Homo sapiens: one gene and its partners. The protein of the gene in region 3 interacts with the protein of the main gene of each other region in a biochemical or structural test. Each region holds a gene or a part of one and is shown on either strand. Other genes may lie near its edges.

Evidence for each region.
Region 1: of the proteins of NFE2L2 (region 3) and DCAF11, one has a biochemical effect on the other in vitro, tested with the Homo sapiens proteins (one study listed by BioGRID).
Region 2: the proteins of NFE2L2 (region 3) and MAFF form a complex in vitro, tested with the Homo sapiens proteins (one study listed by BioGRID).
Region 4: of the proteins of NFE2L2 (region 3) and PRKCA, one has a biochemical effect on the other in vitro, tested with the Homo sapiens proteins (one study listed by BioGRID).

Annotation. Positions count from the first base shown.
Region 1 is NC_000014.9:24,117,758-24,124,785, reverse strand, and holds part of DCAF11 (DDB1- and CUL4-associated factor 11), read right to left. Parts: intron 6,732-7,028; coding exon 6,631-6,731; intron 6,399-6,630; coding exon 6,252-6,398; intron 6,037-6,251; coding exon 5,982-6,036; intron 5,642-5,981; coding exon 5,573-5,641; intron 5,228-5,572; coding exon 5,170-5,227; intron 5,076-5,169; coding exon 4,890-5,075; intron 3,949-4,889; coding exon 3,795-3,948; intron 3,422-3,794; coding exon 3,269-3,421; intron 1,816-3,268; coding exon 1,709-1,815; intron 1,612-1,708; coding exon 1,477-1,611; 3' UTR 1-1,476. UniProt on the Homo sapiens protein: May function as a substrate receptor for CUL4-DDB1 E3 ubiquitin-protein ligase complex.
Region 2 is NC_000022.11:38,211,978-38,217,019, reverse strand, and holds the end of MAFF (transcription factor MafF), read right to left. Parts: intron 3,448-5,042; exon of another isoform or gene 3,337-3,447; coding exon of another isoform or gene 3,314-3,336; intron 3,198-3,313; coding exon of another isoform or gene 3,167-3,197; coding exon 3,131-3,166; intron 2,601-3,130; coding exon 2,142-2,600; 3' UTR 513-2,141; downstream 1-512. UniProt on the Homo sapiens protein: Since they lack a putative transactivation domain, the small Mafs behave as transcriptional repressors when they dimerize among themselves.
Region 3 is NC_000002.12:177,261,723-177,269,383, reverse strand, and holds the start of NFE2L2 (nuclear factor erythroid 2-related factor 2), read left to right. Parts: upstream 1-4,656; 5' UTR 4,657-4,807; coding exon 4,808-4,852; intron 4,853-5,252; exon of another isoform or gene 5,253-5,981; intron 5,982-7,661.
Region 4 is NC_000017.11:66,683,591-66,690,618, reverse strand, and holds part of PRKCA (protein kinase C alpha type), read right to left. Parts: intron 3,509-7,028; coding exon 3,352-3,508; intron 2,318-3,351; coding exon 2,183-2,317; intron 1,669-2,182; coding exon 1,572-1,668; intron 1-1,571. UniProt on the Homo sapiens protein: Calcium-activated, phospholipid- and diacylglycerol (DAG)-dependent serine/threonine-protein kinase that is involved in positive and negative regulation of cell proliferation, apoptosis, differentiation, migration and adhesion, tumorigenesis, cardiac hypertrophy, angiogenesis, platelet function and inflammation, by directly phosphorylating targets such as RAF1, BCL2, CSPG4, TNNT2/CTNT, or activating signaling cascade involving MAPK1/3 (ERK1/2) and RAP1GAP.

The DNA of each region.
Region 1 (7,028 bases), on a different chromosome or scaffold from region 3:
ACAGGTGTGAACCACCGTGCCCGGCCTACTTTTTGTATTTTTTGTAGAGATGGGGTTTTGCCATGTTGCCCAGGCTGGTCTCAAACTCCTGGGCTCAAGCGATCCATCAGCTTTGGCTTCCCAAAGTGCTAGGATTACAGGCATGAGCCACCACACCTAGCTTGTTTATTCTTTTAAAACTGCCTATTTTGCCATGAAATAGGTACCCTTGCTGTGAAAGCCTGTGAACACCCCTGGATGTGTGTACCTTCATTTAAAAACTGCCTTAGAGGGCATGAAATGTCATCAGGGAAGATCTATTCCGAGCTGGGTGTGAGCTCTAGCCCTCTCCCTGACCATCGGTTTGCTCTGGGGTATGAGGTTCTGAGTGTGAGGCGCCCACTGGGGCCTGGCGTCAGGGCCGACTTGCTTCTCTTAGGCTCTGCGTTCAGGGGCTACCTCTTCCAAAGACTACACAGCTGCAGGCCCAGCCTCAGAGCAGAGGTGATATGGGTATTACCAGGCTCTAATGGAAAGTGTGCTCTCTCGATATCTACTTGCAGGGAAGCTTCTGAAATTGGTAAGGGAGCACCTATTGCAAGGCTCAGTGAACAAATGGTTTTGGTATTTCCCTTTTTCATGGGGCACCAGAAGGGTATTTTCTCCTACACAGGATCGCATCTGAAGACTTTGCTGAACTGTGTTTTCCTGAAGTGAGGAGATGAAAGACCTCAGATAGGAAAAACAGAGAGTGAGAGAGAGAGACAGACACTGAGCCAGGTTCCCACACAGTTTATTGAGGGAGCCAAAGCCAGTGAGAGGACGAAGGAGTCCTACTTCAACCTACTTCCTTAAAGCTGTGTGCCTCCAGCATGAAGGGACCTTCCCAGAGGGCAGGGCCTGCCCTATAAGGGGCCACATGAAGCCTTGTGGAGACTCCTGCCTCTCATACCACAGCCTGTCCTACCCTAAAGACCCAGACATGACAGCAGACATAATCCCCACCCCAGGAGGGTGCTGAGGAAACACCCTTACCCATGCCCCTCCCCTAGAGACCTCAGGAAGAAAGGCCAGGACACCTGTCCTGTGATTGGCCAGTTGAATCCTCAACGTGAAGACCTGGCAGGCCTGGCTGACAGGTCTGTTCAGATGTGGCCTCAGGCATCTACTCTAGGATCCAACCCCTAACATTCAAACATGATTAAAAACACCCAGGACACTTCTCTTGCTGGCAGAGGCCACACCCCAGATAATGGCAGTCCTGCCAAACTCTGGCCAGAGATAGGGACCCAAGCTGACTGGGTGTGAGCACGTAAGGAGACCACTCTGCCCCATGGGGAGAATCTTCCAGGGCTCAGCTGAGGCTCAGAGCCCAGGCTTATGTTATTCCCCATCAAATGCCAGTGATTCCTCCAAACATTCCCCACAAGGGAGAAAGGGAGGAGGAGGCAGAGAGCTTATCAAGAGGTTCACCCTATATGGGGCTGGAGGTTGGATCTACTGGGGTGAGGAAAAGGGTGTAGAGGATTGGGGCACTGGGGCAGGGGCGCTGGCACATTCCTCAGATTCTGGCATGTCATCCTGGAAGTACTCAGCCTGGCGGTACTGCCACAGACGCAGGTTCCCGTCCCACTGCAGGGCAGAGGGTGGCAAGCAGTCAGGATGTGCTGCCCCCACCCAAGTCCAAGCCCCAGACATGTGCCAGCACCCTCAACCCTTGCAACCTCACCGAACTGCTGACAATCTTCTCTTCAAAGGGGTGCCAACTGACGTCACGCACACAGGCCTTGTGGTTGGTCAGCTTCTTCACAATGTGGCCACTTAGAAGGTCGTACACTGTCCAGGACAGGCAAGAGTGGAGAGGGACCACCACAAGACATCTAAACTATCCCTCACCTCCCCATGAGTAGCACCACTGACCTGCCTCTCAGGCAACTTCCCATGTTCCCATGGGAGCAAAGCCCACACCAGAAGACTGTGTTATTTCTGCTTCTATCCCTGTTCCTTTCCATACCTTGGGTTGAGGGTATGGTTTAGTGGTGTGGGTATGTCTGGCCCTTAGCTAAATTTCATAGGGGCTACAGTTAAGGAAATGCACTGGCTTTGAAGATTTTAGTAAGATATGGAAGGCACCACAAAAGTGAACAATGAGCTGTCTGGGGGTGTGTGCACCTGCTGCACCTTATCTGGACAGGGTGCATCTTTCTTTTGTCATGGGACTGTGAGTGTCTCTCTAGGGACAGCACTGCCTTAGGCTCCTTGTATCTGCAGCTGTGCTTCTGGTTTTTTTTTTCTTTTTCTTTTTTTTTTTTTTTTGAGATGGAGTCTCGCTCTTGTTGCCCAGGCTAGAGTGCCGTGGCGCGATCTTGGCTCACTGCAACCTCTGCCTCCCGGGTTCAAGCGATTCTCCTGCCTCAGCCTCCTGGGCTCAAGCGATTCTCCTGCCTCAGCCTCCCAAGTAGCTTGTGATTACCAGCGCCTGCCACCATGCCTGGCTAATTTTTGTGTTTTTAATAGAGATGGGGCTTCACCATGTTGGCCAGGCTGGTCTCAAACCCCTGACATCAGGTGATCTGCCCGCCTCGGCCTCCCACGGTGCTGGGATTACAGGCATGAGCCACCGTGCCCGACCTTTTTTTTTTTTTTTTTGAGACAGTTTCTCACTCTGTCACCCAGGCTGAAGTGCGGTGGCACAATCATGGCTCACTGCAGTCTCGGGCTCAGGTGATTCTCCCACCCTAGCCTCCCAAGTAGCTGGGACTACAGGCCTGTGCCACCATGTCCAGCCATTTTTTGTAGAGACAAGGTTTCTCCATGTTGCCCTGGCTGGTCTCAAACTCCTGGGCTCAAGTGATCTGCCCTCATTGGCCTCCCAAAGCCCTGGGGTTACAGGCATGAGCCACTGCAGCCAGCTTATTTCTTTCTATGCTTTTCTGCTTTAGCGACTGCATGTCCCTTAACTACTTGCTACCATCTTCCTGTGTCATTTTGTCTCTGTTCCCTCCTACCTTTCATCTGCAACCTCTTTCTTGACTGGCTGAAAAACAGAACCAACTATATTTTTGGCAATCTATTATATTTACTGTCTAGAATTCTATGTTCCTTTTCTTAATTTAAAACACTGAAAAATAGAATGGTTTCTATTTCTCTGTTTAAGCCTCCAAGCTAAGTTTGATTTTACCTGTAGCTGTCACTGGGCTTTTTAAGGTGGTCACTAGTCGTTATAGGTGGAATGGCAAGGAGTCATTCCTGCCCTTCCTGAGGCCCCCTGTTCTGACACAATCCTTACCAACCACTTTGCCAGTGGAGCAGCCACTGTAGATGAACTGCTGGCCAGTGCTATGAATGGGGGAGAACCGGCAGCGGATGAGGGTGTGCAGCACTCCGTGGCCCCGGTAGGTCATCAAGGAGCTGTCCCCTGGGAGCTTCAGCTTCCGCCAGGCTGGGTAGGGATGCAGAGTAAACCCTAGGTTAGGAAATCTGCTTTGGGATTGTTTCGTACCACCAGTCCTGAGCAAGGTTCGATGCCCAGAGACAAATGCCTTTCCAATCTTCAAGTGGTGGCTCTTTCTCCACCTAATAGTCAGTGGACAGTCTCCAATATGGCCCTGCCGGTTAATCATTACACTCACATACTTTTATATTGGTTGATTCTGAGTGACCCCCACCCAGGCCCCAATCCTAGGAACCTCTGGCCATTCCATCCATGATTTAGCAAATAAAGAGTTAATGCCTGGCAAAGAGGGCTGAGGGGGAGGTCCTCCAGGGCTCCCAGGCTACAGACAAATCCACTGTGCCTGTACTTCCAGTCTCACCTTTTTTGGGCACTTGCTGCCACCGATAGTCCCAGTTTTGCTGTGTGGCAGCCTGGCGTGAAGCTTCCATGCCTTCCCGGCTGGAAAAGCGTCGGATATCCCAGAGTTTGATGGTCTGGTCTTTAGAGTTGGAGATCAGATACCGGGCATCACCCTATGAATCCAAAGGTGGATAGTGAAGCATCAGAGCTTGCAAATGTCGGCGCCTGTCAGTCTAGTTCCCGTTCTCTAGTTGAGCAGAAGAACTCTGGCCTCTGGCTTTACTTGCCTCTCTTCATCCAGGTGAACTCATTTCCAGCGTTCTGCCTCAGATCCTACCACCTGGCTAGGTTTTCCTTTCCTTGCCCAGGCTACTGGCCGGCTTTCCTATTCTAGCCTTAATCAGATTGTCTTCCATTTTTCTTTTTTTAATTTTTAATTAACTAATTTTTTTTTGAGATGGAGTCTTGCTCTGTCACCCAGGCTGGAGTGTAGTGGGGTGATCTCGGCTCACTGCAAGCTCCGCCTCCCGGGTTCACGCCATTCTCCTGCCTCAGCCTCTTGAGTAGATGGGACTACAGGCGACTGCCACCACACCCAGCTAATTTTTTTGTATGTTTAGTAGAGACGGGGTTTCACCATGTTAGCCAGGATGGTCTCGATCTCCTGACCTCGTGATCTGCCCGCCTCGGCCTCCCAAAGTGCTGGGATTACAGGCATGAGCCACGGCATCTGGCCTTAGTTTTTTTTTTTTGTTTTTTTTTTTAAATAAATAGAGATGAGGTCTCGCTAGGTTTCACAGGCTGGTCTGGAACGCCTGAGCTCAAGTGATCCTCCCACCTCAGCCTCCCAAAGTGCTAGGATTACAGGTGTGAGCCGCTGTACCTGACCGGTCTTCCATTTTTCTTGTACGGAAAGCCCTGCCCTGCTCCTTGAGGACTGGTGAGTACAGATGGAATTCATGTTCCCTGGCTTGAGCCCCTTCCCTAAACTCCAACTCTTACAAACCTTGGTTAATAAGGAGCTTGTCAAATTCCCACACCAGTCCGCTTTCATGCCCTCCTGGGCAACTAGAACCTTAGCGGCCTGGCTGTACAGTCCTGACTTCTGGCCCACCTTGCTGTCAATGAAGGTGATGCCATCCTGGTGTCCAGCCAGTGCACCCACAGGCTTGGGGTCATCCTCCCGCATGGTGCGTCGATCCCACACTTTGCAGATGGCATCATCTCCCCCAGAGAACAGGATTTGGGAGCTTATATCAGCAAAGGCCACTGCATTCACATCATCCTCATGGGACTCAATCTAGGCGAAAAGGAGGCCAGGATATAAGACCTCTTTCTAGGTCTTATAAAAAGCCAAAAACCAGGAGGCAGAGGCTCTATCTCAGGAGCCATACCTGAAGGGTGCGCCGGTTCTGTTCTCGGTCAAAGACATACAGGCAGCCATCATTGGCCCTGAAAGGGAAGGGATAAAGGAGGGTCCTGGAGCCATGATCGAGAGGACCAACGTGGTATATGCTCTAGAGAGTTCCACTGAGAAATCCTGCTCTGGGTCAAGCCCTTTGCTCTTTTTATACAGGAAGTGGGGGAAGAGTTAGCTGTGTTTCAAGGAGGCTTGACACCTCCAATCTCGTGCTGGGGAAATGGAGAGCAAGGGGTGAAGCAACTTGTAAATCCTGACCTTGGGAGAAGGTCTGGTTGTTCTCTGCAGCTGCCAGTGCCATCTGTGTAACAGCAGAACTCATCTCTGGCAGAACCCCCATCTTGTTATTGAGGGAAACATACCCCACAAGCACTTACCCTCCTAGTACTTCTCGTCCATCTGAGGAGACAGCAATGGAGAAGACAGCAAAGCGACGCTCATCTGGCCTAAAAGCAAGAAGGAGCTGGGTTAAGTGGACTTCCTTCAGCTTTTGTTAATCTACATAAAATCTGACAACGGTTGTAAGGCACATCCCCAGGGGAAAAAAGAAGTCTGGCTAACATGCACCATAATGCAGATGCTCAGTGAGAACCCAGAAATCATCCTGCAACCATCTATTTTACCCAGTCCTCTGGCTGACAAGATGGTGCTTCCCTCCCAGGAATGCACACAGACCCACCAGTATACTTTTTCCCCTAAACAGAACTTCCAACTCAAGAGGTTTGCTCCCAAAGAGCTTCCCTTGAGAAGTTTCTGATGAGTCTGACCAGAAAGGGAAGCCAGTACCTGAGATCCAGGGCAGTGTGTGTATCTCCCTCACCATAGATATTGCAGATATGAACTAAGAGAAGCAAGAAAAACAAGAATCTTTCAGGGATGGGGGAAGAAGAGTGGAAGTGAAGCTAGGGAAGAGATCAAACAGGGGACAAGGGTACTGGAGCACTTTGGGAGTGATTTTCCCAGGACAAAGTGAGGGATCCTGGCTCAGAGGGGACAGGCACATGGAAACCTCAGGTCCCAGGCTGGAGAGTCAGTGGAAGCCTGGTGCATACTCACTGTAATCAGACCAGCTAGAGTAGAGGAAGTGGTTCCCATCAGGGGTGAAGGCCACATCCAAGACGCTCCAGCCTACGTCGCGGGCCTTGATGCTCTTGAATTTACGGAAACGGCCATATCGGCAGTCATAGAGTCGGATTGTCTGGTCTGTGTAAGTAAAGATCAGGCAGAATTATGGGACAGTTTCCTTGTAACTTTTCTAGATTAGACATCTCCCACTCAGTGTACCTGTGGAGTCTTCCCTTTATCATGGGAAACATGGTCTGGCTAAGCATCCTTAAGCCAGGTCTGAGCTCCCCGTCTGTGGCTTTCTAGCCTCAGTCAGGGGGAATGTCCCATGTTCCAGGAAAAGATAGTTTATAGGACCAGGGTCTGGTACCTTGGCAAGCAGACATGAATATTTGACCATCTTTGCTGTAGATGCCACAGAAAGCCTTCTGAGAGTAGCTATCAGTGAAGCCCAGATCATTGGGCAAGAAGCTAGGGAAGGAGAGAGAAAGTGAGGGTGAGGGGTGCTCAGGATAAGGAGTGTCCCAATCAGCAGAATCCTAACAGAGCTGGAATATCAGAACAGTCATTCTTCCCTTTTGGCTGTGAGTGCAATCCCGTCTTTCAACCATTCCACCATCCTCTAAATTTCTACAATTTTCTACACTTTTCTACTTTGTTTACTCTCAAAGTTTCAACCCCATTTAACCTAACCTTTAATATCTCTGAGGCTCCTTTAACACCTACCCCTTCAAAGTTTAGGAGATAAGACCTATCTGGCCCTTAGAG
Region 2 (5,042 bases), on a different chromosome or scaffold from region 3:
TAGAGATGGGGGTCTTGCTATGTTGCCCAGCCTGGTCTCAAACTCCTGGCCTCAAGTGATCCTCCCACCTCAGCCTCTTCAGTAGCTGGAACAATAGGCATGTGTACCACCACATGTGGCTAATTATTTTTTATTTTTTGTAGAGATGGGGTGTCACTATGTTGCCCGGGTTGCTCTTGGACTCCTAGTCTCAGATGATCCTCTTGCTTCAGCCTCCCAAAGTGCTGGGATTACAGGTGTGAGCCACCATGCTCCGCCAGAATCCAGTCCTAAATTTCATTGTGCCCATGGCTTTGTCTTCCCAGGAGCTCCTGTGCTCTAAGCAACCAAGAGGAAGCATCGAAGTTTCAGCATCACTGGTCTCTGTCGCCATCTCCCCTCCACCTCATACCCTGTGCAATAGCTGGTGATGTGCACTAGCCCTCCCCGCCACCAGAAGCCCTAAGGGGTTGAAAGCAGAACCCCATTTTAGACACCCCTCGCCAAAAAACATAGTCCAGGATACACATTTATTCTCTGTGGAAAAAGAAAGAATTTGACTTTATTTAGAAAGTCTACAAAATACAGAAGACGATAACTCGCTTGCTGTAAGTCAGGAAATAAATAAATTCTAGGAGCCGGGCAATATTTTTTAACTTTTTTTTTGAGACAGGATTTTGCTATGTTGCCCAGGCTGGAGTGCAGTGGTGCGATCTCAGCTCACTACAACCTCTGCCTTCTGGGCTTAAGTGATCCTCCTGCCTCAGCCTCCCAAGTAGCTGGGACTACAGGCATGAGCCACCATGCATGGCTAATTTTTGTATTTTTTGTAGAGATGGGGTTTCACCATGTTGTCCAGGCTGGTCTCAAACTCCTGGACTCAAGCGATCCCCCTCCTTGGACTCCCAAAGTGCTGGGATTACAGATGTGAGCCACCGCGCCCGGCTTAAACATTTTTTGTTGTTGCTCTCCGGCTTTCCCTAAATATAAGATAAAATGTGATTTATTTGCAGATATAAAATATAAAGCCCAGCTCAGGGCCATACGCCACTTTTCCCAGGGAGCAGGAGCTCGGGCTCTGGCTGGGGAGAATAACTTAGATCCGTGCAATAAATAAACAGTGGGGAGGGGCAGTGTGGACAGTGTTGGGGGAGGGACTGAGACTGGGCTTCCCAGGAGAATGACAATCAAAGGCAGGGGTCAGCCCCCACCCCACAGTGGACACTGACAGGGGTTGAGGTGGGACCCTTCTTCTTAGGACCCCACTCCAGACTGTAGTAGGACTGCAGGGTCTGTCTCCTTGTCTCCCTATTTGCCACAGCAGTCCATGGCCCCCTTTCTCTGACTGGCCAGCCCCCGGACACCCTGGCTGCAGGGACAGCCTAGGGCTGAGCCAGGCCAGCTCCTTCCCACTCTTCCATCCGTGTCACCTTCTCTCTCCCTCTGCTTCTCTCCCCCTCCCTTGCAGAGAGCGGTCTCCCAAGCCAGGGAGGCCCTCCCACCACATTTCTGAGTCCCTGTCCACTGTCCCCCTGAAAACCATGGCTGGACTCAGGGCAGCAGTGAGGACACCCAGGTTTTGGTCCCAACACAACCACTAAGTGAAATGTGACCTCAGGCCTGTTTCCCCATCCGTGAACTGGGTTTCACTAGTCTTCCCACCCACTCTTTTAGTTTCGGAAGGCCAGGCACCCCCAGGCCCAACCAGAGGTGGGGGCATCTCTTCAGTGCAATTTCTCAGCAGGACGGTCCCGTAAGTCACAGACAGCCAAACCTAGCTTTGAATCCTGGGAGGGTTTGGAGGGCATATTGGCACAATAAGAGCAGTTTCCAAGATGAGGGGTGCCCTCTTCTCCCCCAACAGCTGTTCTCTAAGCCGGCTCTGTATCTCTCAATCTAAAAAGGCTAAACTTTCAGCCAAGGGCGATCCCAGATCCAGACCTCTGCCCCATCCCCAACCTACCCAAGTTCCCCTTCCCAGGGTCATTCGGTCCCAGTTTGGGGGGCTGCAAGAGGAAGACAGGGCCCACGAAGGGAATGTGTGTGCACCAAGGGGCCAGTGCTGCAGAGAAATGGGACCTGGGCACAGAGGCGGCGCTCAGGCACTTTGGGGAGGGAGCTGAGGCCGGAGGGGCGTGGCTGAGGCATGGCGGGGGCGGGCACTAGGAGCAGGAGGCCGGGCCGTGGGCGGGGTCCGGGCCGTGGGCGGGGCCAGACCCCGAGCCCGGGGTGGACTTGACGATGGTGATGACGCTGGCCGGCGCCACGAGCGTGGCGGGCCCGCGGGCGGCGGCCACGGAGCGCGCGAAGCCCTGCAGCGCCTCGCACTTGCCGCGCAGCGCGTCGAGCTCCAGGCGCATGGCGGCGTTCTCGCGCGCCAGCTTGTCCACCTCGCGCTCCAGCTCCGACTTCTGCTTCTGCAGCTCCTCCTTCTGGCACACGCGCTTCACGCGGCAGCTGGCGGCGTAGCCACGGTTTTTGAGTGTGCGGCGCCGCTGCTTGAGCCGTGTCACCTCCTCGGCGGAGAGCCCGCGCAGATGCCGGTTCAGCTCGCGCACCGACAGCCCCATCAGCGCCTCGTCCGACAGGTGCGGCGTGTTCTCGCTCAGCTCTCGCTTGATCTGCGGGCATGAGGAAACTGAGGTCCAGGGGACTGGGGACGGGCCCCCCCGCTCCACCCGCGGTGTTCCTCTTTCACCGCCTTAGCCGCCGAGGTGGTGGGTGGACTTGATCCAAAACCCCGAAGGGGAGCAGGAATCCGGGAAGGGGAAACCGGGCCAGACTAGGATCGGGACACAAAAGGAGGCCACCCCGGGGCTCAGCCTGAATTCTAACCTAGCGCCAAGCCCTGGACTCAGCCAGAGAAACCCAGGTCGGAAAGCACCTTTGAATGCCCCAGGGGACATTGACCCGATGGGGAAGGAGGCCTGGAGAGGGAAGTGACCTACCCCAGGGACATGCAGCCTGTGACCAGAGCCCAGGCCTCCTGGTCCCAGCCCATGGCTGTGGCCCTTCCCTTTGGCATCATGAAGGCCTGGTGCCTGCTGAGCCACCCAGGGGATTCCAGGAAAGAAGGGGAAGTTGGGATGAGGAGGCTCTGCATGGGCAGGGAGGGAGGGCTTCACTGGGTTGACAGAGGCTGCCTCCTCACCTTTAGAGCTTTGCTGGATAGGGGATCCACAGACATGTTTGCAGAAGGTGCCCTCTGGGCTGCAGACCTAGGGTAGAAAGGAGGTCAAAGTCACTGTTTTGTTTTTGGTTTCCCATTTAGAATAAAATCCAAACTCACTACCTTGCCATTCAAGGCCTCTGCTATCTTAGAACTGATTCATACCTGCCACCTTCCTCTCTCCACATTGGTCCACAGGCCTCCTTGAATGGCTCCTTCCAGCCGCGGGAGCTGTGCACAGGCTGTGCTCTTTACTGTTCTAGCCCCATGGTGACTCCTCATCATTTAGGTCTTTGCCCAATGTCACCTCCTCAGGAGGTCCTCTTTGACCATTCTGGCTAAACGCCTCTGTGTCACATCACATAACCCCGCCTATTAACCCTTGTAACAGTCACCTCTTCTGCATTTCTCATGCTTGGTTCCTCATCTATGATTTGTTTCTCCTTCCCACTCCTCCTCCACCAAAACGGAAGCCAATGAAGGCAGAGGCCTTCCCTGTCTCACCACGGCATCAATATGCCTAAATCAGTGCCTGGTATATAGTAGATGGCTCAGTAAGTGTGCACCAAATGAATAGATGTGCCTCTCCTGACCATTCTTCCACATGGGGCTTGGACATGTGCCTTTGATTTGATTTTTCAGAACTTTTCTTTCTCTTTTTCTTTCTTTCTTTTTTTTTTTTTTTTTTTTTTTTTGAGACAGAGTCTCACTCTGTCACCCAGGCTGGAGTGCAGGGGCGCGATCTTGGCTCACTGCAACCTCCGCCTCCCGTGTTCAAGGGATTCTCCTGCCTCAGCCTCCCAAGTAGCTGGGATTACAGGTGCCTGTCACCACGCCCAGCTAATTTTTTGTATTTTTAGTTTATTTTTATTTTTAGAGACAGGGTTTCGCCATGTTGGCCAGGCTGGTTTTGAACTACTGACCTCAGGTGATCCACCCGCCTCAGCCTCCCAAAGTGCTGGACAGGTGTGAGCCACTGTGCCCAGCCAATTTTTCAGAACTTTTCTTAAAGTATAACCTACATACAGAAAAGTACACACAGCATATGTGCACCAGTAAATGCCTTTACACAAAGCCCATCCAGCACCCCGTAAGATACAACATCAGCCAGTCCCCTCTCTCCCCAGGCCTCCTTCATCTAGACCTCTGTTTTGGGAAAGTTTTCCCAACCTCCTGGGGGCTGCCCCATACTAACTCAGCATGCCCTAGGCAGATGGGGCAGCCATCCCTAGACCAATGAGGGCCTCTCATCTCCTAATCCTCCCTCCCACAGGCCTGACAGCCACATGCTCCTTCAACAACTATTTATTGAGCTCTTTGCCAAACATGTACTTGGTAATGGGGAGAAAAAGGTGAATAAAACTCGTGGAGGGTCAGTGGTCATTGCTCTGGGCTGGAGAAGGGGACCATCTCCCAAAGTCCCCTTTAAAGCAGCAGTCCTCTCTGTCTCTAGCTGATAGGATCTACTTTGCCAATCCTCTCAGGTTCTCCGCCATGAGAACCTGAGTTTTCTCATCTGTCTCCAAGGGGAGGGGGCAGTGATAAGAAGCCAAGGAAAATAAAGGAAGATAGGCTGGGCGCGGTGGCTCACGCCTGTAATCCCAGCACTTTAGGAGGCTGAGACGGGCAGATCACCTCAGTTCAGGAGTTCAAGACCAGCCTGGCCAACATGGCAAAACCCTGTCTCTACCAAAAACACAAAAATTAGCCCAGGCGTGGTGGTGCATGCCTGTAGTCCCAGCTATTTGAGAGGCTGAGGCAGGAGAATTGCTTAAACCTGGGAGGTGGAGGTTACAGTGAGCCGAGATTGCGCCACTGCACTCCAGCCTGGGAGCCTGGGTGACAGAGTGAGACTCCATCTCAAAAAAAATAAATAAATAAAAAGAAAACAAAG
Region 3 (7,661 bases):
AAAGTATGTTTATTTATTTAGAACAATGTAAACATGGAAAAATGAGAAAAAAAAGTCATCAGTCTCCATCTAGTCAAAATAATTACGGTTAACATTTTGGAGTATATGCATTCTGTCTTTTTTTTCTGTGCATATATATTTATATAGGTATCAACACATAAAATTCAAAGGACTCTTTTAAACATTTTTCTCTTTACTCACTGCATTGCTGTTGCTGCAGGATACTTTTTCTTTATGAGCAGGAAACTACACAAGTTAAAACTGGCTTTGGAGATGTACAGCTCATTGTACCAGTAGTTTGCACAGTGAGGTGTACACCCCAGGGAACCAAGGATGCGGGTGTGTTTTGAAATTAATACACCAAATATTTTGAACACTGCTTTACTGGAGTTTGTTATTTTATTTACTTATTTATTTTTCGAGATGGAGTTTCGCTCTTGTTGCCCAGGCTGGAGTACAATGGCGCGATCTCGGCTCACTGCAACCTCCGCCTCCCGGATTCAAGCAATTCTCCTGCCTCAGCCTCCTGAGTAGCTAGCATTACAGGCATGCACCACCATGCCAAGCTAATTTTGTATTTTTAGTAGAGACAGGGTTTCTCCATGTTGGTCAGGCTGATCTCAAACTCCCGACCTCAGGTGATCCGCCCACCTTGGCCTCCCTGGGATTATAGGTGTGAGCCACCGCGCCTGGCCTATACTGGAGTTTAGTTTATCCACTGGGCAGGTTGCTCAAGTTCAAACTCCCTAAGCAGATATTCAGCGAGTATCTTACATAACTGGCACAAATGAGGTCATATCACGGTCAGAACCTCTGTATGCATTTATCCCTCCATCTACTTCATTGATAAAATGTCTGTGTTCGTGAAGTGTATTTTGATAAGGAGACTATCTCTCCATCGTCTAATAAAATGAAACTTATGCATGGTGTGATGAGGTTTTTTACTTTGTATGTAGCAACAAAGATATGTTATGGGAAAGACAGCTTCCTCATTCCCAGGGAAGTCATTTTCTTCTGAGAGTCTGAGTTTTATTAAATCACCAAGTATCATCTCCCTGTTTGTGCTCCCAATGTTGGTTAACAAACAAAGAGCAGCCAGGGGAAACCCTGCCTTTGATAGTCACCATACATACAGTATGCTGTTTTGGTTATCAATTGCTATGAAACAAACCACCCCCAAATTTAATAGCTGAAAGTGATTTATTATAATTTCTCACAGTTCTTGGTGTTGACTTAGCTTAGCCAGGGAGTCTTCTGCCGGTCTTGCTTACAGTCTCTTGTATGTGACTGCAGTCATATAGCAGCTGGAGCTGGAGTTCTTTGGGGGCTTGAATAGGTGGGCTCGAAGGTCCAAGATGGTTTCTTCATTCACATGTCTGGTGTGTTGGTTCACATAGTCTCTCTCTCTCCATTTAGAGTTTCATCTTCCATGACTTTTCCCATGGCCTCTCTTTCCATCAAGGTAGTCAGACCTCTTAGGATGATGGCTGACTTCCAAGAGTATAAAATTAAAAGCTGTCAGGGCTTTTTCAAGCTTAGGTTAAAACCTGGCATAATGTCACTTCTGGCCTCTTTCCATACCTTAAAGCAAGTTGCAGGGCCAGCCATGCTTGTTTCAATATGAGGGGACTAGACAAATGCCTCAATATCAGGAGAGGTGGTTTACTGGGTGCCATCTTTGGAAGCTTTCTATACTTTACACTGGACAAAGTAGAATTTCAACTACAATTCTAAAAGATTATGAATATTTTCTGGCTCAAACATGGAGAACAATTGAGAGGAAGTGACAGAGAGAGGAAGAAGCCTCAAAGTGATGGAGGATTTTGAAACAATCGGTACTTTCTTGCACCTTGCAACTTGGCAGATTGGAGCACAAAGGAGGTGGAACTAAGGGGTCAATGCATCACCATTATCCAGACTTCTTATACCCAGAAGACTTACTTGATGATACTTTTTTTTTAGACAGAGTCTCACTCTGTCGCCAGGCTGGAGTGCAGTGGCGTGATCTCGGCTCACTGCAACCTCCGCCTCCTGGGTTCAAGCAATTCTCCTGCCTCAGCCTCCCTGAGTAGCTGGGACTACAGGCGCATGCCACCACAACCAGCTAATTTTTGTATTTTTTAGTAGAGACAGGGTTTCACCACGTTGGCCAGGATGGTTTTGATCTCTTGACCTCGTGATCCGCCAGCCTCGGCCTCCCAAAGTGCTGGGATTATAGGCGTTAGCCAGAGCACCTGGCCAATGATGCTTATTTTTTATGAGCAATCTGGAGCAAGGTATCACAATTGACACATCTCAAGCATGTAGGGAAGGCCGTCTTCCCAAAGACAGCAAATGATTCAGGAATCAATGAAAAGGTACAAGAGTCAATAGAACATAAAACCAATTGGAGGGTATTTTTCCCAAATAGTAGCGAGGAGAGCCTGGCAGCAAAAAAGGATCCCATGGCAGCAAGACAGGAGAGAAAAACCAGCACCTCCTCTTTCTTGTTCTTTCTTGCTCCTCCAGAGCTTCTCAACATGCATTATCTGTGCCCTCCTAACACAATAGGCAGGTTTGGAGGGCAAAGCAAGGGCTCAGGCTCTCATATGAAGACAATCACATTCCAGAGTCTGCCAAGATTGGGCACCTCCTTGACGTGGGTGGTCTTGAGAATGGGGTTCCCTTTATTTGGCTAAACCAAATGCCAAACAGCTTTTCCTTAGTGTTTGTTTTTCTTAAACAAGTTCAAACTCTTATCATATTGCTCCCCTCCCTTTGAAAATATGTACTCTGCAGATGCCTGAAATAACACACTCTCAGCAAATTGCAGCATTGGAAAAGTGAAGGTTATTTCATTCAGTCTAAACTCAATGGAAATTTTGTGGCTTAACAAGGAAATACCAAATACTTTATAAACTCCTTTAGAGCAGTAACCATGTCATATGACTCTGGTATCTCCTACCTACTAGGCTCATTGTCTACCTTCTCTGATGTCGTAATTTTAATAAGTAACTTGAATTGTTAACAATTTACTCTTGTCTTTTTCTTGGACTCAGAAATGTTATTTTATTATTATGTCTCTGCATCTTTCATGTGAGGTCCTTTGCAAACAGTTTTCTCCTAACTTGTTTTCATTGTGCAGATCATGTTGCAGGGTTTTCACATAACAGCTGAAAGGAATTAATAGGAGTTAAAGAAGCTTGCTTCAATTACAAGTAATTAATTTAGGCTTCACTTATCTCAAGGAATATCTGAATATACAAATTTACACATAAATCCTGGGAGTGTCAAATTATGCAACCTAGAGAAAGTAAGCTCTGCAGCTTTTTGGGCGTTGATTGCTATAGTCAGGGGTGTGTGTGTGGTTTTTGAATGAAATAGCAAAACCACTGCCAGTATTATCTACTTCACCTGGTTTTGAATAATTCCAGGAAGCTAGAAACTGAAAACCAGTCTTGTATAGAGTTAGAAAGATTGTAAATGCAGAAGAGGAAGAAAAAAACAAAACTAAACCATTTATCTATCCTCTTTGAACCCTTATAAGAGTTCACAATATTCCTCGTTTCAAATACTTGAAGTCTTCTCTGGGCAATGATTAATTTTTAAATAATTGTTTTTAATGTAAGACATAAAACATACGCACTGCAGATTTAAAGCATACTTGGAAGTAACAAGGAGAAACATAAAAATCGTTGATTCCACAGCATTTAATATATTGGTAACCTTCAATTTTTTTCTAGGCACGTTTTTATAAAATGAGCCAATACTATACAAACGTTTTTGTAACTTTTTTTAATTTGTACTATTTTGTGAGTACGTGAAAAAGAAATTTGTAAAGAGTAAACGATTACAGCATGTTGTGGTATTACACACTGTTGAAGGGCGCCATCTGTGGCGTGGTGGCTGCGCTTTGGTGGGAAGAGGTTCTCTTGGGGTTCCCGTTTTTCTCCCAGCTCTGGGTGGGCAATACTGACCACTCTCCGACCTAAAGGGGCTTCTCCGTTTGCCTTTGACGACCTGAGCTTAGGAGAATGGAGACACGTGGGAGTTCAGAGGAGGGCGTTCAGGGTGACTGCGAACACGAGCTGCCGGAGCTGTCCACATCTCCCCTAGGCAGGGCCCACTGGCCCCAGCCCGGGAAGGGAGCAAGGGCGGGAGGGCAGTTGGCAGTGGCACGGTCTGGGTCCAAATCTTTAGCCCCCCCCACCCCGGCTGGCGCCATTCTCGGGCGGTAAAGTGAGATAAAAGCAGGGCAAGGTTCTGCAACTCCAAATCAGGGAGGCGCAGCTCCTACACCAACGCCTTTCCGGGGCTCCGGGTGTGTTTGTTCCAACTGTTTAAACTGTTTCAAAGCGTCCGAACTCCAGCGACCTTCGCAAACAACTCTTTATCTCGCGGGCGAGAGCGCTGCCCTTATTTGCGGGGGAGGGCAAACTGAACGCCGGCACCGGGGAGCTAACGGAGACCTCCTCTAGGTCCCCCGCCTGCTGGGACCCCAGCTGGCAGTCCCTTCCCGCCCCCGGACCGCGAGCTTCTTGCGTCAGCCCCGGCGCGGGTGGGGGATTTTCGGAAGCTCAGCCCGCGCGGCCGGCGGGGGAAGGAAGGGCCCGGACTCTTGCCCCGCCCTTGTGGGGCGGGAGGCGGAGCGGGGCAGGGGCCCGCCGGCGTGTAGCCGATTACCGAGTGCCGGGGAGCCCGGAGGAGCCGCCGACGCAGCCGCCACCGCCGCCGCCGCCGCCACCAGAGCCGCCCTGTCCGCGCCGCGCCTCGGCAGCCGGAACAGGGCCGCCGTCGGGGAGCCCCAACACACGGTCCACAGCTCATCATGATGGACTTGGAGCTGCCGCCGCCGGGACTCCCGTCCCAGCAGGTGCTGCCTCGGCCCTCTGGGCCCTGCGGTGGTGCCGGGACGGGGGCGGGGGAGCTAGGGAACCGCGGCCCGGGAGGGACAGCCGCAACCGGCTTCCCCCACGTCTGGCCAGAGCCAGGACCGCGGCGCTGGGTAGAGCCGCCGCGCTTGCGCCGGGGCAGGGCGGGGAGGGGCAGCGGGGACGCGGCCGGGTGATCCGACCGACCACGAGCCCGAGGGCGAACGGGTGGGAAGTTGCGGGAAGGTCTGGGGACTGAGCCCGCTCGCGTGGGCCTTGGGGGAGAATCCAGCCGCGTCCCCGGGCCCGAGAGCTGGGACTCCGGAGCCCCTAAGTTTGAGCGGCCCGGTGGGCGGCGGGGCAAGAGGGGGCGGACGCTGGCCGTCTGAGCCGGCGCGGCCCGGCCCTTCCGGGGCTGCGCGGCTCCCCCGCCTCGGTGCCGGCAAAAATGTGCCTAGTCACGGGGCCGCTCTCGGGGGAACTGAGGTCGCCTTCGGGCTGGGACCCGGAGCCCCTTCGCCGCGCCCCAAGACCTCCTTGAGTGCGGGCTGCGACGCGCTCACCCCGCTGGGCCGTCTGTGGGCGCGGCTTTGCGAAGTCATCCATCTCTCGGATCACTCTCTGGCAGCCTTGAGCTCTCTTGAAAGCCCAGCCCCGGGACGAGGGAGGAGCGCCTTAAGTGCCCAGCGGGCTCAGAAGCCCCGACGTGTGGCGGCTGAGCCGGGCCCCGCGCACTTTCTCGGCCGGGGAGGGGTTCGGGCTCGGGCACCCGGAGTTGGCCCCTCGTAACGCCGCGGGAAAGTGCGGGCGAGGGCAGTGGACTCTGAGGCCGGAGTCGGCGGCACCCGGGGCTTCTAGTTCGGACGCGGTGCCCCCTGGTGGCGCTCACCGCGCGCGTGGCCTTGGCTTCCGTGACAGCGCTCGGTTGGCCGTCACAGCAGCCCTCGGTTGGCCCTTTCCTGCTTTATAGCGTGCAAACCTCGCCGCGCCAGGGCCAAGGGACAGGTTGGAGCTGTTGATCTGTTGCGCAATTGCTATTTTCCCCAGAGCGGCTTTGTCTTTGGATTTAGCGTTTCAGAATTGCAATTCCAAAATGTGTAAGACGGGATATTCTCTTCTGTGCTGTCAAGGGTAAGAGTTGCGAGTGTAGATTAGAATTTCTGTTGCTTTTAGTCTGTTAGTAATTTTTTGCTTTCAGCTATTATTTCTCCCCTGAGTACTTTATATATGTTTCCTTTTCAGTTGAGAATTTGCCTCAATTTCTTAACATGTTCCCCCTCTTCTGCAGGGGCAGAGAGTGGAACGCTTGCGTTTCAAAACACTTGCTAATTTCTGTGAATTGTTATAAAAGTGAAAAGAAGTTTCTGCTCATCCTTTGTAGAAACTTTAAAAGTAGATATTTATATTTCTAACTTCTTTTGTAAATGAATTTTAGGAAAAAAATTGGAATTCAAGGAAATGTGTACTTGATGTACAGTAAATACGTTTATGCTGTTAAATGTAAAGTTTTCGGTTAATTCCAAAGATCTATTGTAAAGTTTTAAGTTATGGACAATGTATTAATTGTGCTTTTTTCCCCCTTTAAAGTTGTTTGTCTTGAACTTTTCCCCAGTCTTCATTGGGATTGTATTCTTCTGGTTCCAACTAGTGAAGAATTAAATTGTACCTTCCGATTTATTTAATAGCTGCTGTTCAAGAGTTATCTATAGGAATGCTTGTTTGACTGAAGGATATATGATAAAAATGAACTTTAGTTTTTCTGATTTCCGGAATTGTCTACAGCCCTCTATTATTTTTGAATTTTTCTTTCTTTGCTGTGTAATATAACATTCCTTATACAAAAATGCGTGAAACATATGTACCGCATTAAGTGTGTATTTTCCAATTACGTTTGATAAAAATAACTGCTTTTCTACCTTTGTAATCAGACATCGATTTGCATATTTGAAAACAGAAAAAGAACAAGAAAATTTAGAATTGATTTTGTTTATGATTCATATTAGATTGTTGTCATCCATAAAGATTTGAACAGAGTCAAACATTTTCTTGACCTTTTGTCAAAAAAAACTCTCCAGGTGTGAAGTGGTAGTAGGATATAGTTTTTCACCTTCTGTGCAGAGGATGTGTTGATAAACAGGGCAGTAAGGAGAGCCTTAGATTCAGTATCTCCATTAGGTGGAAGGAACCATCCATTACTCTTTTCAAGGGTGTCTTGGAGAGATAAAGCACTTTCCTAGATGAGGGATGAAGTTGATATTGAAATAGACCGATGAGATTATTTTTAAGTCAAACAAAAGAAAAATAGGACAGGCCTCTCATCTCCTGAATGAATGTTAAGCAAAGAACAACTTGACTTTTTAGATATGTGAAAAATCTCTTGAGAGGTTGTGGAAGCAGCATGTAGGAGGATAAATGCATAACTCACATCAGTCTTTTACGCATTAAAAATAACTTGGGCCATTTTGAAATCTTTCTTTCTTGCCCTGGGTTCTTATAAGCAATGTTGGGGGGAAAACTGACTCTGTCTTTAGGATTACCAGGAAAAGTTGAAAGCCAAATGCATCATTTTTCTTAATATTTGTTTTTATTGAGGATAAATCATGTTTAACAAAGCTGCATGAAAAAAAGGAACCCAACAAGTACATTTTTTTTTCTGGGAATTTCCTCTGTCCTGACTGAAGACATTTAAAGGGGGTTTTGTGTCAATATTTCCTCCTTAACTGTTCCTCAAGCCTGGGTTAACTTTTCAGTATGCAGGAAGAATTTGGCACTAAGATAATAATAGATAAGTTACTGGGCACGTCCCTGGGT
Region 4 (7,028 bases), on a different chromosome or scaffold from region 3:
TCAAGTGATCTGCCTGCCTCATCCTCCCAAAGTACTGGGATTACAGAAGTGAGCCACTGCACAGGGCCTGGTTCTAAGTTTTAACATTAGAACTCTGCCAACATTAAGATAAATCAGAATGTATCATATAAAAACCTGGATTTCTGGCTTCTCTGGAAGAAGGAAGATCCGGCAATAGAGGGCCTGGACTCGCCTGTGAGAAACATCGAGTGGGGCAGGGTAGCCGTAGCTGCCACCTGCAGACAGAGCTGAAGCTTACCAGCTCACCCCAGTCTCCACCACTCCCTCCTGCTTCAATCCCGAGGCCTGCCGTTCATTGCCATTTATTATCTGTGAATCATTTCACTCGTCTGTGCTCCCAAGGACATCTAACCAAAGAGCCCCTGCCATTTAGTATTTGCCACAAACATCAACTTTAACCAAACATCAGTTTAACAAAGTAATTTGAACAACTGCATGTTTTACATCCTTTGGGATTCATTCTCTCTGGATAAGACCTATATGTTTCTTTTGTGGGGGGCATGAAGGAGGTTTATTATCCCCCCAAGACCACTCTTCCCCACCCCCCAGATCTGTATGTTTCTTGGAGAACAACAGAAGAAGGAAAAGAGGAGCATCAGCATCCCATTAGTGTCAACATTTCAGTAGCAGTTCAGCATCTACACACATGTGTGCGTGTGCACGTGTACTGCTCTAGAGCGGGGAAATTCCAGGGAATTCTAACAAGTCTGAAGAAGAGAAAGATTCACGAAGGAATTAACCAGTTACACAGACTGAAAAGGCTACTCTAGGAGTCCCTCGAACAGCCAAAATGAAGGGTGATTAGAGAAACAGACAAATATTAGAAGTTGTGCCTTTAAAACATAAGGAAGGTGCTTACAGAAAAGAACCGTTTACTAAAAGCTGAGATGTCGGTAAATGAAGAGGAGAAGGGAGAGAGAGGAGAAGAAAAAGAGGAGTAAGGAGCAGAGGAGGAGAAGTAAAAAGACCAGTGAATCCGGGACAGAGGCAAACACAAATACCAAGAGGAAGAAGAGAAGGAGGTGGCCTTTGCTAAACATCTGGAGCATAAATAAAAAGGGATCACACACAAAGGCATATTTGTTTAAGCTGCTCTTTCAGAACAAAATTAGGAACCTTGTACTTTCTGTAGAAAAAAAAAGTCTCAGATGATAGCCTGATTACACACAAATGAGCTCCCAAGGAAAGGCCAAAATGACTTCCTCCTTTTCAGAAGAGCACAAGTCCTCCTTTGTAAGAACAATCCTGCCCTCAGAGCCTGCTTCTCTCCCCAGTGATGTGCAAACAGATCTCTTATGCAGAAATCAACCATGCTCTCAGTTCTGCGATATTTCCAGTTTCCATTTTCTAAGTGGTAAGAGTCATAAAAAGTCAACAGCTTGCAAAGGAAAGGGAACGAACAACATTCATGTTTTTAAATAAAGAAAAAGATCATTAACATTGAGATTACTTTTTTTTTGCTTTTCAAAAATGTGACCACAACATCTCGGCCGTTCCTGAAGTTGGGCTTTCTAAAGGAAAGGTGTTTCCGGGCATTTTGTTATCCTCACCTCGAATTTCTGCCTGAGTTCCATGTTTCCTTCCTCGTCCCCTTCCGGAATGGGTACGTTGTAGTACTCACCTTCTTCTTGGTTAAGCAACTTGTACCTTTCAAGGACGGGAGAAGAAGAGTTACCACCGCAAGTTTAACAAGCCTTTCCTGCAGCCTCTAGTCGAGCGGTTTTGTGAAACGCATCCTACGGAGAGGCTACAGCCAGATCAGTAGACATTTGACTTTTTTTACATTTTTATATTTTTGAGACAGGGTAGCTCTGTTGTGCAGGCTGGGGGACGGTGGCGGAATCAAAGCTCACTGCAGCCTCAGCCTCCTGGGCTCAAGTGATCCTCATGCCTCGGCCTCCTGGGTAGCTGGGACTACAGGGGTACACCACCACACCTGGCTAATTTTTGTATTTTCTGTAGAGGTGGGGTTTCTCCATGTTGCCCAGGCTGGTCTCAAACCTCAGAGCTCAAGCAATCCACCTGCCTCGGCCTCTTGAAGTGCTGGGATTACAAGCATGAGGCACCATGTCCAGCCTCAACTGACATTTGAGAGACTGAAACCTAACTGTCTAAATGGTCTGATGCTTTGAGACATACTCAACCTAAGCGGCTTCCATACCATCCACTGGCCGGCATCTTCATCAGCTCCGAAACTCCAAAGGAAAGGGATCCCATGAAGTCATTCCTTGTTGTTCGATCCCAGTCCCAGATTTCTACAGACAGTCGTCGGTCTTTGTCTGAAGGTTTCAATTTGCTACAAGACACACACACATGCAAACACTAGGTTATCTTGATCATGGTTTCTTGGGAGATACCACATGTATATGACTCGAGCCTGAGATAAAGAAATAGTATATTTGTCTTCCTGGTCCAGTAAAATACCAACCCCTTATGCTGGCAAGCAAAGCGCTACAGGAGTTAACAAACTATGACCCATGGGCCAAATCTATCCCACTGTCTATTTTTATAAATAAAGTTTTATTAGGACCCAGCCATGGCTATCTGTTTACATATTGCCTATGGCTCCTTTGGCACTAGAAAGTTATACCGGTGCAACAGAGGCTATATGACCCACAAGGCCTAAAATATATACTATCTGATCCTTTATAGAGCAGAGCTTGCTGGTCCCTCTAGAACAGACAGCTACCTTTCTGGTTGTCCACAGAAAAACTGCTTCCTGTATACTACTCTACAAAGGGGAACTCTTGCTTTCCCTCAGCTACACTCAGTCCTCCTGATTTATTTATTCCCTCCTTCCTTCTTCCCCTTCTCTACCTCTGAAATCCTGGCAACCCTCCCAGGCTGGCTTTAAATGTCACCTTTTCCAGGAAGTCTTCTCTCTTTGAAGGCAAGAATGATCTTCCCATTTCAGTGGCAATAACACTTTCTATGTTACTCACTCATTCTGTGGTCTAAAAATTATTTAAATTCTTGCCTTATGCCCTCCCCTAACTCCCAAAAGAACCTAAGTCCATCAAGAGGTGGACACACCTGACACATTTTTAGCTTAAATTCTATTTACCTTAATTCTATTTCCTTAAATAGAATTGTTTATCCAGATTAGATAATAATAATCTGAGGCCTGAATTATGCAACTCTTGATAAATCAAATTACTATCTATCGAACAGGTGCTAATAGCTACCTCCCTAATGGCAGCCTGAGGAGGTCTTAGGACTGAAGACATGTTTAAAGACGTTTATAATGAACCTACTTCATTACCTCAAATAATGAGGTGGGCAACTGCATGGTGTATAGGAATGAAATTTGATCAAGGAGAGACCACTTACAATGTAAAGGACTCATTCCACTGCGGATTTAGTGTGGAGCGGATGGTTTTGGTTTTTTGCTTGCTTTCATTCTTGGGATCAGGAATAAGTTTCAGCTTCACATAAGGATCTGAAAGCCCGTTTGGATCCATAGGGATTAGATTTTTTGCATCTCGTACTGTGAAGAGAGAAGGAAGAAAATATTACAAAAAGAGAACAGACCTATATTGCCCGCTGTCTTGTGTCAATACCAAGCTGAATAAAAGAGACGTCAGAATGGCGTTTAAGGAGACAGATGGTGGAAGCCAAAAGCCTCTAACACTCGACATGAGAAAAGCTACCCGCTGCCACCACCGGCAGAGATAATGGGCATCGTGTGGGCCCTTGTGGGTGGGTCTTGGGACTTAGCACCAGCCTGGACTGGCAGCATCAGCAACACTAAGATATCTATTAGAAATGCAGAAACCCAGGTCCCACCCCAAACCTGCCAAAGCAGAATCTGTAATTTAACAAGATTCCCAGGTGACCTTTGCAGCTCCCCAGGAGTAATGGTGCACCCTCCCTGCATGGAAGCGACCAGCCCAACCTGGTCTATGGTGCCACACACGCACCTGAGCTCCCAGAAGGTGTTATCCCTTTTTGTGGGTAAAGGCCAATGGCTTCCAACTCTGACTGTACATTGGAATCACATGGGGGTTGGGGAATGGGGGAGTTAAAAATTCTAATCCCCAGAATTAAACTAGAATCTCCAAGGAATGTGGCTCAAGTATTCGTTTTTAAAAGCTCCTTGGGTGATTCTACTGGGCAGCAGGGGCAAGCACCACTGCTGTATACAGTTGTAACTCAGAATTGCTGGTCCATGGACCGGCAGCATCTATATCACCTGGGAGCTCATTAGACATGCAGAACCTTGGGTCCCACCTCAGACTTAATAACTCAGAATCCTCACTTTAACAAGACCTCCAGGTGCTTCCAATGCAATCTTAGCTTGAGAAACCTGATATGGGAATCAAAAATAATTAGAAGGAAAGGCCATTTCATCCACAGAGGAAAACAGGCTCAAAGATTTAAGAGCTGGCAGAGGCTCACAACCATGAGAAGCTGTCTAAAGCCACTGCACGTCAACGTAAAAGATAATTATCTACTGCTATGATGAAGGGACAAAAGCCTGAGTCTCCTATCTCAAATGCCTTCCTATCTTCCCATGGCATCTTTCCCAGTAAGGCTGAATTATCAGATACCCAACTGGTCAGACACCATCAACACACATATAACTGGGACCAGGCTCCCTGATTCAGTGGTTCCCACAGTGTGGTCCCTGGACCGGCGGCACTGGCAACACCTCCTGAATCAGAACTCTGGGGTGAGGTCCAATGATCTGTGTTTACCAAGCCTCCAGGTGATTCTGATGTCCATAAAAGTTGCAGAACCACAGATCTAGGCAATTAGCATAGTTTATCAGCATAGTTTGATTATTAAATTAAGAATTACAGAAGAACTTGAGAAGAAGGCACTGGAGTTGTCAGTGGGCAGGGTTAGATGGGGAGGAGGCAGGGGGAGAACCCTAAAGATGTTGGGTCTTTGGACACAAATGAGGGAGGTACAGCCCTAAGATCGGAAGTCAGAGACAGGCATTGCCTTTACTAGTCTGTGGATCTACTGTGTTCTGCCTCCTGCCAGCCAACAGCCTTACATCCTCCTTACCTGGAAGCCTTACATAGGTAGGTAACAGATGGGACTATATTCAAATACAGAGGGGGAGGGGGCTAGCTCAGGTCTGCTAGCCACAGAGAAGCTGAACATAGTTTGTCATACCCCATTTGTGCCTTCCAAGTATTTCTTCTCCTAAGAAAATATCTAACCTCATTCATCTCAGGGAGCAGATAGCACACAAATAAAACACATAGGCATGGTCCCTGTGGCTCAGCAGGTGTACATGCAAACTCTGCCTCCTTCACCATGTAACCCTGAGCACTGGGAAGCTTAGTCTCTGAGCCTCTGTCTCTTCATCTAGAAAAATGAAGACGGACATAATTCCAGTGGTATAGAATTGTTGGGAGAATCAAATAAAATAATGTTTATAAAATACCTTACATGGTTGGGGGCTTGGAAAATGAAAAAATAAATCCATGGTGTGAGTGCTCACTATACCCCAGGCATGATGTTCCGGACTCCTTTCCACTCTTATCATGCTGGAATCTATAGGGTTGGAGGCCCCCAGGGGACTTGGTCACTGGAGAATTCACCAAGCTCATGTGAAAGGTTTTAATCCAATGCAGAAAGTCTAGCCCACTAAAACATCAACCCTGAGTATCACCAAAGATGAAAAATGTGAGCACAAAAATGGAGCTCTCCCATGAGGAATGGAAAGAGGCCAACGGTCTCTCTCTGATTAAACACCAGAATGAGAATCAGATGCTTTTTAAAAGGCAGAAAATGCCCTGGAATGTCTAATACTGGAGGCTGCAGAAGGTCACATCCTGGATAAGCCAAAGAAGACCCTTATTAAGGTCACCAAGAGGTCCTGGGTTGCCTCCTACCAGTTGCAGAATTATTGCGGGTGCTGGCTTTTATATCTTCAATTTATATTCCTGACAGACAACACACACAAAAAAAATCATTTAAGTAAGATCTCTTCGGAATGGTGATGAGTTAAAATCTTGATGGGATTTAAAGCTGTGAGTGTCCTACTGAGATACTACCATTTAAGTTGAAAATAAAAAGAGTTATCAATTCTAAATGTCATTGAAGCAAATAGTGGGTCCAAATTTCAATTTCTTATCACAGCAGAGAACAGCCTGTGTGAGTGTGACTCATGGCATGCCAGGACACCTGAATCAGGATTACGAGCAACTAACTTAGGGTCCCATCTGCTCAGAGTGTAGGATCTGGGGCAAGGCTGCCTGCATTTGAATTCTGGCTCTGCCACTCTGTGGTTGTGGACAAGCTATTTTATCTTCCTAAGTTTCCTCATCTGGAAAATTATATCTCCTTCAAGCAAGGATTATGTAGGCTCATCCATGTAAAGTGCTTAGAGCAGTGATAGGCACTCGGTGAGAGCACAATAGTGATGATCATAATTGCTCTTAATACAAGTTACTGGTGGAGAACAATCTTAGATGTGCAGAAACTGCACCAACAGCTTACGGAGTGGTAAGCAAATGCCGGGGAAAACAGTACAGTGTGGTAATGTTCTAACAGGGTTTCAACTGTATGGTTTCAAGAATGTCAGGCTAAGAGGCAATGCTAGGGGGCATTACTCATAGGAATAGTTGTAAGGAAGATGGAAGAGGGGAAGCTGGGGAAGCTAGGAAAGAGAAAATAAGAGGAAAATTGAAGTGGGGAAGCGGATGAGAACAAGGGCTAGAGACAGAAGAGAGAAACAAGGGAAAGATGTGATCAAGATGTGGAGTCAAATCCCAACACTTTGGGAGGCTGAGGCAGGTGGATCACATGATGTTGGGAGTTTGAGACCAGTCTGGCCAACATGGTGAAACCCCATTTCTACTAAAAATACAAAAAGAAGCCGGGCGTGCTGGTGGGCACCTGTAATCCCAGATACTCAGGAGACTGAGGCACGAGAATCGCTTGAACCCAGGAGGCGGAGGCTGCAGTGAGCTGAGATCATGCCACTGCACTCCAGCCTGGGTGACACAGTGAGACTCTATCCCCCCGACCCCCCCAAAAAAAGATATGGA